Linked DNA regions of Homo sapiens: region 1 is linked to region 2. Evidence: fine-mapped QTL for protein levels in blood plasma. A gene starts in region 2. The other region holds a variant in brackets. All regions are shown on one strand. Distances are from middle to middle.

Evidence for each region. PIP is the posterior inclusion probability: the model's chance that the variant is causal. Sun 2018 read protein levels with aptamers (SomaScan).
Region 1: its variant is fine-mapped to the plasma level of the IL5RA protein (Sun 2018, PIP 0.95).

What each region holds. Positions count from the first base shown.
Region 1 is chr3:3,094,835-3,098,834 of GRCh38, reverse strand. IL5RA (interleukin 5 receptor subunit alpha) reads left to right here. Exons shown (of 12, transcript NM_175726.4): 6 at 545-698; 7 at 778-965; 8 at 3,391-3,536. Among named protein-coding and RNA genes, the nearest start is that of IL5RA, 14 kb to the left of the region's middle. The variant C/T (reference allele first, on the strand shown) is at 1,678.
Region 2 is chr3:3,110,199-3,114,725 of GRCh38, reverse strand. It overlaps IL5RA (interleukin 5 receptor subunit alpha), which reads left to right and starts at 4,352. Exons shown (of 12, transcript NM_175726.4): 1 at 4,352-4,527.

The sequences.
Region 1 (4,000 bases), 16 kb after region 2:
ACCCCCAGGCCCCAAACAAAATAGCTGGGAAGCTCTCGAATATCAGAAATGGGGACTTTATAATTCTAATTCCATATCTCCAGTAAGTTGGCCTTTTGTAGTTAGTAGGTTTCTAGAAATATGTGATCATGGCCGGGCATGGTGGCTCATGCCTGTAATTCCAGCACTTTAGGAGGCTGTGGGTGGATCACTTGAGGTCAGGAGTTCAAGACCAGCCTGGCCATCATGGTGAAACGCCAGCTCTACTGAAAATACAAAAATTAGCCAGGTGTGGTGGTACACACCTGTCATCTCAGCTACTTGGGAGGCTGAGGCACGAGAATCGCTCCAAGCCAGGAGGCAGAGGTTGCAGTGAGCCAAGATCGCAACACTGCACTGCAGCCTGGGTGACAGAGTGAGGCTCTGTCTCAAGGGAAAAAAAAATGTGAAGATGATTATTTTTTGGTGATGAATACGACGTTCACATCACTATAGTTCCAAAAGAAGCATGAAATTCAGAGTTTGCCATGGCAATGTTTTGTCCTTTTTACTTTTGACTACCTAGGGTCTCCTGGAACCTCAATTGTGAATTTAACTTGCACCACAAACACTACAGAAGACAATTATTCACGTTTAAGGTCATACCAAGTTTCCCTTCACTGCACCTGGCTTGTTGGCACAGATGCCCCTGAGGACACGCAGTATTTTCTCTACTATAGGTTAGTACTGTACCTATTTTTACTTAGGCAAATGGTTGTTTCCTGCAACCTCATAACACTCGTAAATGTTCCAATTTAGGTATGGCTCTTGGACTGAAGAATGCCAAGAATACAGCAAAGACACACTGGGGAGAAATATCGCATGCTGGTTTCCCAGGACTTTTATCCTCAGCAAAGGGCGTGACTGGCTTGCGGTGCTTGTTAACGGCTCCAGCAAGCACTCTGCTATCAGGCCCTTTGATCAGCTGTTTGCCCTTCACGCCATTGGTAAGACCGACTTAACCCAAAGCTGAAATAACTGAATCTCGGAATCTCAGCACTGGAAGGAAGGGTTATAAAGATCACCTAGTTTTACTGCTTCTCTGATGCCAAGTAAGCATCAGACCCATGTTTGAAAACCACTGGGGCAAGGTTCTCCATTCCAACACCACCAGTGAGTTTTGCTGGACAACTCTGTGTTATGGAGGGCTGTGCTGGGCACTGTAGGATATTTAGCGGCATCTCTGGCCTCTACACACTAGATGCCAGTAGTATGCCCCTCTGTCCTTGAGCTGTGACTTTTAAAAAAGTCTCAGACTTTGCCAAATGCCCCTCAAGGGGTAAAATTTCCCCCAGTTGAGAATCACTGCACCAGAAAAAGTGAATTTAGCTGCTTAAAAGAGACCATTTAATCCTTCATGAGTTCTGACAGGTTTTGTGAAATTTCTGCCCCTGGGTCCTGTGATGGACTAGTGCCACCCCAGGTGATTTGAGTCCCTTCCCTATAGAATAGCCTCTCTTAGCTGTTCACAGGCAGCACGTTTCCCATCCAGAAGCCCTTCTTCTCCCAGGCTAACATCTCTCTCTCTCTGAATTTCTCACTGTTCTGGCCCATCTCCTGGATGTTCTGCAGCTCGAATATCTCTCAGTGTGCAATTCTCAGCTCTAAAAATTCTATTCGTGGTTTTGTCTGCTCAGTTCTCAATAGAGAAGACACTCT[C/T]CCTCATCCCAGATAGTTCTATTAGTGAAACTCATCAGGCGCTCTCACATGGCATTCTTAGTTATGGAGATTCCAGATTTCAATGGTGGGTGGTTATTATGGGCTGTGGGGCCAGACTGCCTGGATTTGGATCCTGGCTCCACCACTGGCTGAGTGACCTTGGACAAGCTGATCATTCCTTTGTGCCTAATCTTCTTATCTGAAACAATGGAGAGGAATCAATACTTCCTGTGCAGTCTTCGTGAGAATTGTGTTACTAATGATAAAGCACTTAGAACAGTGCCTGGCATAAAGGTTTAATAAATACACTACAATATTATTTAGAAGGTATGATTTGGCTGTGACATATCTATATCCAATGGAATATAACTTTGTGTAAAGAATCATAGCCCTTACTAAAGAGGTTATGCAATTCTCTCCAGTAATATATTTCTTAGGTGAACTAAAAATGTCACTTTCATGAAAATAGGCAATAAAAGATGCCGAGGAAGACCTAGGAAACAATGATATTAATATGAAAATGGATATGATCTAGTACAGACCACAGGAATTCATTTTTCTTTTATGATTTTCATTTTATTGAGGCTGATTCCTAGGATTACTAAAATAAATAAGTACTTTCTTGGTTAAGAATTTTCTTCATAGGGTATAGGAGGCTCTGAAGCCAGTGGATCCCACTCCTAGCTTTTCCCTATTAATTGTGAGATCTAAGTCATATTACCTAAGACAAGGACACTCATTAAGAATTCATTTCCCCTCACCTCACCGGACCATAAGACAATCAAGTGAGATCTCAAGGGAAAGGACATTAGAGTCCTAAGTAAAGACAAATTTAGCCCAATCCACTCTTCTTCTTCTTCTTCTTCTTTTTTTTTTTTTGAGACAGATTTCTTGCTCTGTCACCCAGGTTGGAGTGCAGTGGCGCGATCTCGGCTCACTGCAAGCTCCGCCTGCTGGGTTCACGCCATTCTCCTGCCTCAGCCTCCTGAGTAGCTGGGACTACAGGCGCCCACCACCACGCTCAGCTAATTTTTTGTATTTTTAGTAGAGAGGGGGTTTCACCACGTTAGCCAGGATGGTTTCGATCTCCTGACCTCGTGATCCACCCGCCTCGGCCTCCCAAAGTGCTGGGATTACAGGCGTGAGCCCCCACGCCCTGCCCCAATCCATTCTTTTTGATGCAAAAGAAAACTGAAGCTTCCTGCTCCAGCCCCCAAACAAACAAAAACCAAAAGACGCAGTAAACAAAATGAAATTAAAATTAAAAACTGAATCTCAGAAAGGGGAAGTGATTTGTTCAGGGCCACATACCTACTGGGAAGAGGCAAGGCTTGGTGGAAGGTCCAGGGAAATGTTCTCTCAGTGGTCAGGTTTATTCTGGGCCTGGTACAACTTGAGTAGTAAAGGGGGATGGTGGGTGAGTCTTGCAATGAGCTGAGGGGGGGAAGTAATTCAAGCATTCAACTCTATTTGGAGTAGTAATCCTTGTAGTTTCCAGAAAGGGTCTCTTCTTCTTCAGCACTATAAGACAAGAGTATTATGGGAGGCCACCGGCTTCCTGTGGCTTGGAGATCAGTTGATTAAGACCTGATGGTAAATATTTGAAAAAAGCGTATCTTAGAAATGCCTTGAGAAGTGTGGGTGGATTGGAATTATCAGCTTTGATCACTGATTCTAAAAAAAAAATCACTGATCTTTCGTTCCCTAACTTAGATCAAATAAATCCTCCACTGAATGTCACAGCAGAGATTGAAGGAACTCGTCTCTCTATCCAATGGGAGAAACCAGTGTCTGCTTTTCCAATCCATTGCTTTGATTATGAAGTAAAAATACACAATACAAGGAATGGATATTTGCAGGTAATTACTCAGATTATTCCAATATTTGATAACAGACATTTGTTTTAGAAACATTTAAAAAATTATCTTCAGTGACTGCAACCAAGTTACAGCTTGGTACTAACAAGGTCAAAGTTAACTTAATCTACCCAGGTATTATAGATATAACCAAATAGATATAAACCAAATCTTACTGGCCTTTTGTTTTGAAAGAACATACTTTTGGTTGAAACTAATACAAAGGATTAGATACAGACTCATTGGTACTAGTGCTGGTTAAAATCTAAAATGATAGACGGGTGGGGTGACTCACGCCTGTAATCCTAGCACTTTGGGAGGCCAATGTGGGTGGATCACCTGAGACCAGGAGTTCAAGACCAGCCTGGCCAACATGGTGAAACCCCATCTCTACTAAAAATACAAAAATCAGCCAACGTGATGGCGCGTGACTATAATCCCAGCTACTCGGGGGCAGGGGCTGAGGC
Region 2 (4,527 bases):
ACCAGGCTGGAGTGCAGTGGCACGATCTCAGCTCACTGCAACCTTCGCCTCCCGAGTTCAAGCCATTCTCCTGTCTCAGCCTTTGAGTAGCTGGGATTACAGGCACCTGCCACCACACCTGGCTAATTTTTGTGTTTTTTAGTAGAGACAGGGTTTCACCATGCTGGTCAGGCTGGTCTTAAACTCCTGACCTCAGGTGATCTGCCTACCTTGGCTTCCCAAAGTGCTGGGATTAGAGACGTGAGCCACTGCATCCGGTCTTTTTTCACTTTCTTCATGGTATCCTTTGAAGCACAAAAGCTTTTAATTTTGGTGAAATCCAGTTTATCTATTTTTTTCTTTTGTTGTGTCTGCTTTTGTATCTTATTGAAGAAACCATTGGGTAGGTGCGGCGGCTCATGCCTGTAATCCCAGCTCTTTGGGAGGCCAAGGTGGGTGGATCACCTGAGATCAGGAGTTCGAGACCAGCCTGGCCAACATGGCAAAACCCCATCTCTAGTAAAAATATAAAACTTAGCCGGGTGTGGTGGCACACGCCTGTAATCCCAACTTCTCGGGAGGCTGAGGCAGGAGAATCGCATGAATCCAGGAGGCAGGGGAGTTGGCAGTGAGCTGAGATCATACCACTGCACTCCAGCCTAGGCGACAGAGTAAGATTCTGTCTCAAAAAAAAAAAAAAAAAAAAAGAAAGAAACAAAATGAAGGTCATGAAGATTTATGCCTATGTTTTCTTCTAAGAATTTTATAGTTTTGCCTCTTACTTTTAGGTCTTTGATCCCATTGGAATTCATTTTTGTCTATGCTGCGAGGCATTCTTTTGCATGTGGATATGCACCACTTATTGAAAGGCTGATCTTTTCCCCGCTGAATTGTCTTGACACTCTTGTCAAAAATCAATTGACCCTAAATGCGAGAGTTTATTTTTGACTCTCAATTCTATTAAATTGATCTGTATGTCTCTAATATTTTTTAAAATAACTTTTTCTGCCTGCATTTGTACAGAATAAAACGTTTGTAAATATAGAAACACAGAATAAAAGTAAGAGAAACACTAACCCTGCCGTGGTAGAATGAACTGTTGGTCCCATTTCTTCACTCCCCACTAGGAGTTGTCCATGTCCACATCCTTATCATGGCCTTATCATGGTGGAATGTACTTTGGGCTTCGTCCATTTGACTCCGGGCTTGGCCATGCAATTTGCTCAGCCTCTTGAGATGTCAGGGAATGTGACATGAGCAGATGCTTGATGCGTGCTTGTGCAGTTGGTCCTGCTCTCTTGCACTTTTGCTGTCACCATAAAAAGATTATGCCCTGGGTAGCCACTGGTTCCAAATGAATGGCAGATACTTGGAACAAATCTGAACTCACTTTGTGATCTGGATCCCAGCCCAAGATTAAGCAGACCCCAGTCAAAACTCAGACACATGGGCTACAAATACATGCCTATCACAGTTTACCACTGAGGGTTCTGTGGTTGCTTGTTCTGTAGCAATAGCTGACTAATACACCTACCACTTAGAGATAACTATTCCTGTTAGTCTGATCTTCTGACCAAAAATAAGACTGTAAAAAAAAATTACATGTGTGTATACCCTCCTGTTGTTTTTACTTAACATTTTTTCATAATACCCTATGTTATTAAAAGTTCTTGATTGGCTCATACCTGTAATCCCAGCACTTTGGGAGGCCAAGGTGGGAGGATCACAAGCCAGGAGTTTGAGACCACCCTGGCCAACATGGTGAAACCCTCTCCCTACTAAAAATACAAAAATTATCTGGCATGGTGGCACATGCCTGCAATCCCAGCTACTCCGGGGGCTAAGGCACGAGAATCACTTGAACCCAGGAGGCAGAGACTGCAGTGAGCCGAGATCCTGCCACTGCACTCCAGCCTGGGTGACAGGGCACCACCCTGTCTCAAAAGAAAAAAAAAAGTTATTGATAAACATTCCTTTTGACATCCACATCACATATTTCAACCTTGAGCAGTTACATATTTCTCTTCACCATTCCTATAGTACTTTTACTATTTTACTATTGTAAAGGTACAATGAATTTTGCTCTCTTTTGTATAAATCTTGATCTACATTTTTCCATTATTTCCATGGAATCAAGTTCTAGAAGTTGATACCTTTAATAAGCTCCTTTAACCAAAGTTCATGGTAGAGCCACTGAACCATGATTTTCGTTTTATTACTATTCATATTTCTATTTGGCTAAACTCACATTGTTTTGCTTAAAGGATGCAGACACATTTAATTTCACTTTTTAAAAAAACGACTTTTGTGAATTCTTCCAGCATGTTCTATCATACTGTCTTTGGACGTTTACACTTTATTATAAAGAATTAAATTATTGCCATAAAAAACCAAACAGGCCTCGCTCAGTGGCTCACGTCTGTAATCCCAGCACTTTGGGAGGCCGAGGTGGGTGGATCACCTGTCAGGAGTTCAAGACCAGACTGACCAGCGTGGTGAAACCCCATCTCTACTAAAAATACAAAAAAATTAGCTGGGTGTGGTGGCGGGGGCCTGTAATCCCAGCTACTCAGGAGGCTGAGGCAGGAGAATCGGTTGAACCCGGGAGGTGGAGGTTGTGGTGAGCTGAGATCGCGCCATTGCACTCCAGCCTAGGCAACAAGACTGAAATTCCATCTCAAAACAAACAAACAACCCCCCCGCAACCCCCCGCCAGAAAAAAAAAAAGTCCCTGCCTCTCATTTTTTCGTTTGTGCTTATACAGAAACATAGAGACAGTGTTTCTGTATGAGCATGTGTTTGCTTTGTTTGTTTGTTTGTTTTTATTGGCGTAGTTAATTAAAGATCATATACCCAGGAAGGTGGTATGGAAGGAGCAGCCAGATCTAATTTTCTTTATACCCTTCACCGCGCCTAGCATAGTGCATAGGTGCATTCAATGAATATTTGAGTAAATGAATGTAAGAAATATACAGACCATTGGCTGAGTGTGGTGGCTCACACCTGTAATCCCAGAACTTTAAGAGGCCAAGGCGGGTGCATCACTTGAGGTCAGGAATTTGAGACAAGCCTGGCCAACATGGTGAAACCCCATCTCTACCAAAAATACAAAAAATTAGCCAGGCGTGGTGGCGGGTGCCTGTAATCCCAACTACTCGGGAGGCTGAGGCAAGAGAATCGCTTGAACCTGGGAGGCAGAGGTTGCAGTGAGCAGAGATTGCGCCACTGCACTCCAGCCTGGGCGACAGAGTGAGACTTCATCTCAAAAAATATACATATATATATACGGAGAGAGGCCATTAAAGCAGGCTTTTAAGCCAGAAATTACTGTCTTCCCAATGATTAATAAGTATTTTTAAGGTTTCATTAGTGACAAATATGTTACATGTATAAACAGATGGGCAGGACTTAAAAGAGTAGGCCAGATAGTTGATACTATATCTAAACTTTTCTGGGTGCCTCTTAGCAAATAAATGGATCTCTCTCTGTTCCTTGTTTTACTTCCCCTTTCCCCGAGGAAAATCACATTTTTCAGGTCTGACAACAATTTTCAACCTGATAACAATTGCTCCGGTTTCATTTTGGCAACTGCTAAAATGGTCACCTTGGGAACCCCAGGCACACACGCTGACTGTACTTGCACAGCTTCTACACTGAGCCTTTTGGAAATTGCCTCCAGGAAGCCTGTCTCTCATCTCACAAACAGAACCACTGATCCAACCTGGGCCACCATCTTTCTGCATCTGCTCTGTCTGAGACTCTCCCAGTCAGCTCCTAAGGAGACAGGGAATCCTGCATCACTCATCGCTTAGGCTAGACTGAAGGTCTCCTTCCAAAGGCAACTACTTACTACTCTCTGCCGTGGGTCATACAATAAGCACTACTCTTATCTATTCACACGCTAAGCTACTTTTTTAAAGCCAGCTTTGCTAGCTAGCCACCTCGAAATTCCCCAGAAGGAATCAAACAGAAATGGAACAAAGGACAGGAAAAGCCAAGGAGGTTTGCTGAAATTGAAGCATTCTGAAGACAGCTGGGTGGTAAAATGGATGTGACGTGAGGAAGGTGGTCTTGGGTGCACCCACAGACCAACACTGCCATTGTTACAATTTGTGTAGGATGATCTCAGGTGACAGACAGCAGCAATTTATCACACCCAGAAACGCATCCCCCACACATATTTACTTGAGGGTACCAGACCTGCTCACAAAGCAGAGAAGAGCTAAGGCGGTTCTCTAAGGGCAGAGAATTGCTGCTATTGCCTAGTGAGTGGGGAGAGGGTACTCCTCAGGCCTTACTTCCTATCAAATCATGTGTCAGTGTTGCCTAGGAGACAGAGGCACAGTAACTACTGTAGCCAAACAAGGCACATAAACAAAACAGAAATGCAACGCTTTAGAGTACCCACGGAAAACTTGTTTACCTTGTCACCATGAGTAAAAGTTAATTCCCACTCCTGAAGAGAGCAAACCAACTCTGAAAGAGAGTGAAAATGCAGACAAGACAGTTATCAGATAATGGCTATCTGGACGAGAGATTCTTTCGTTT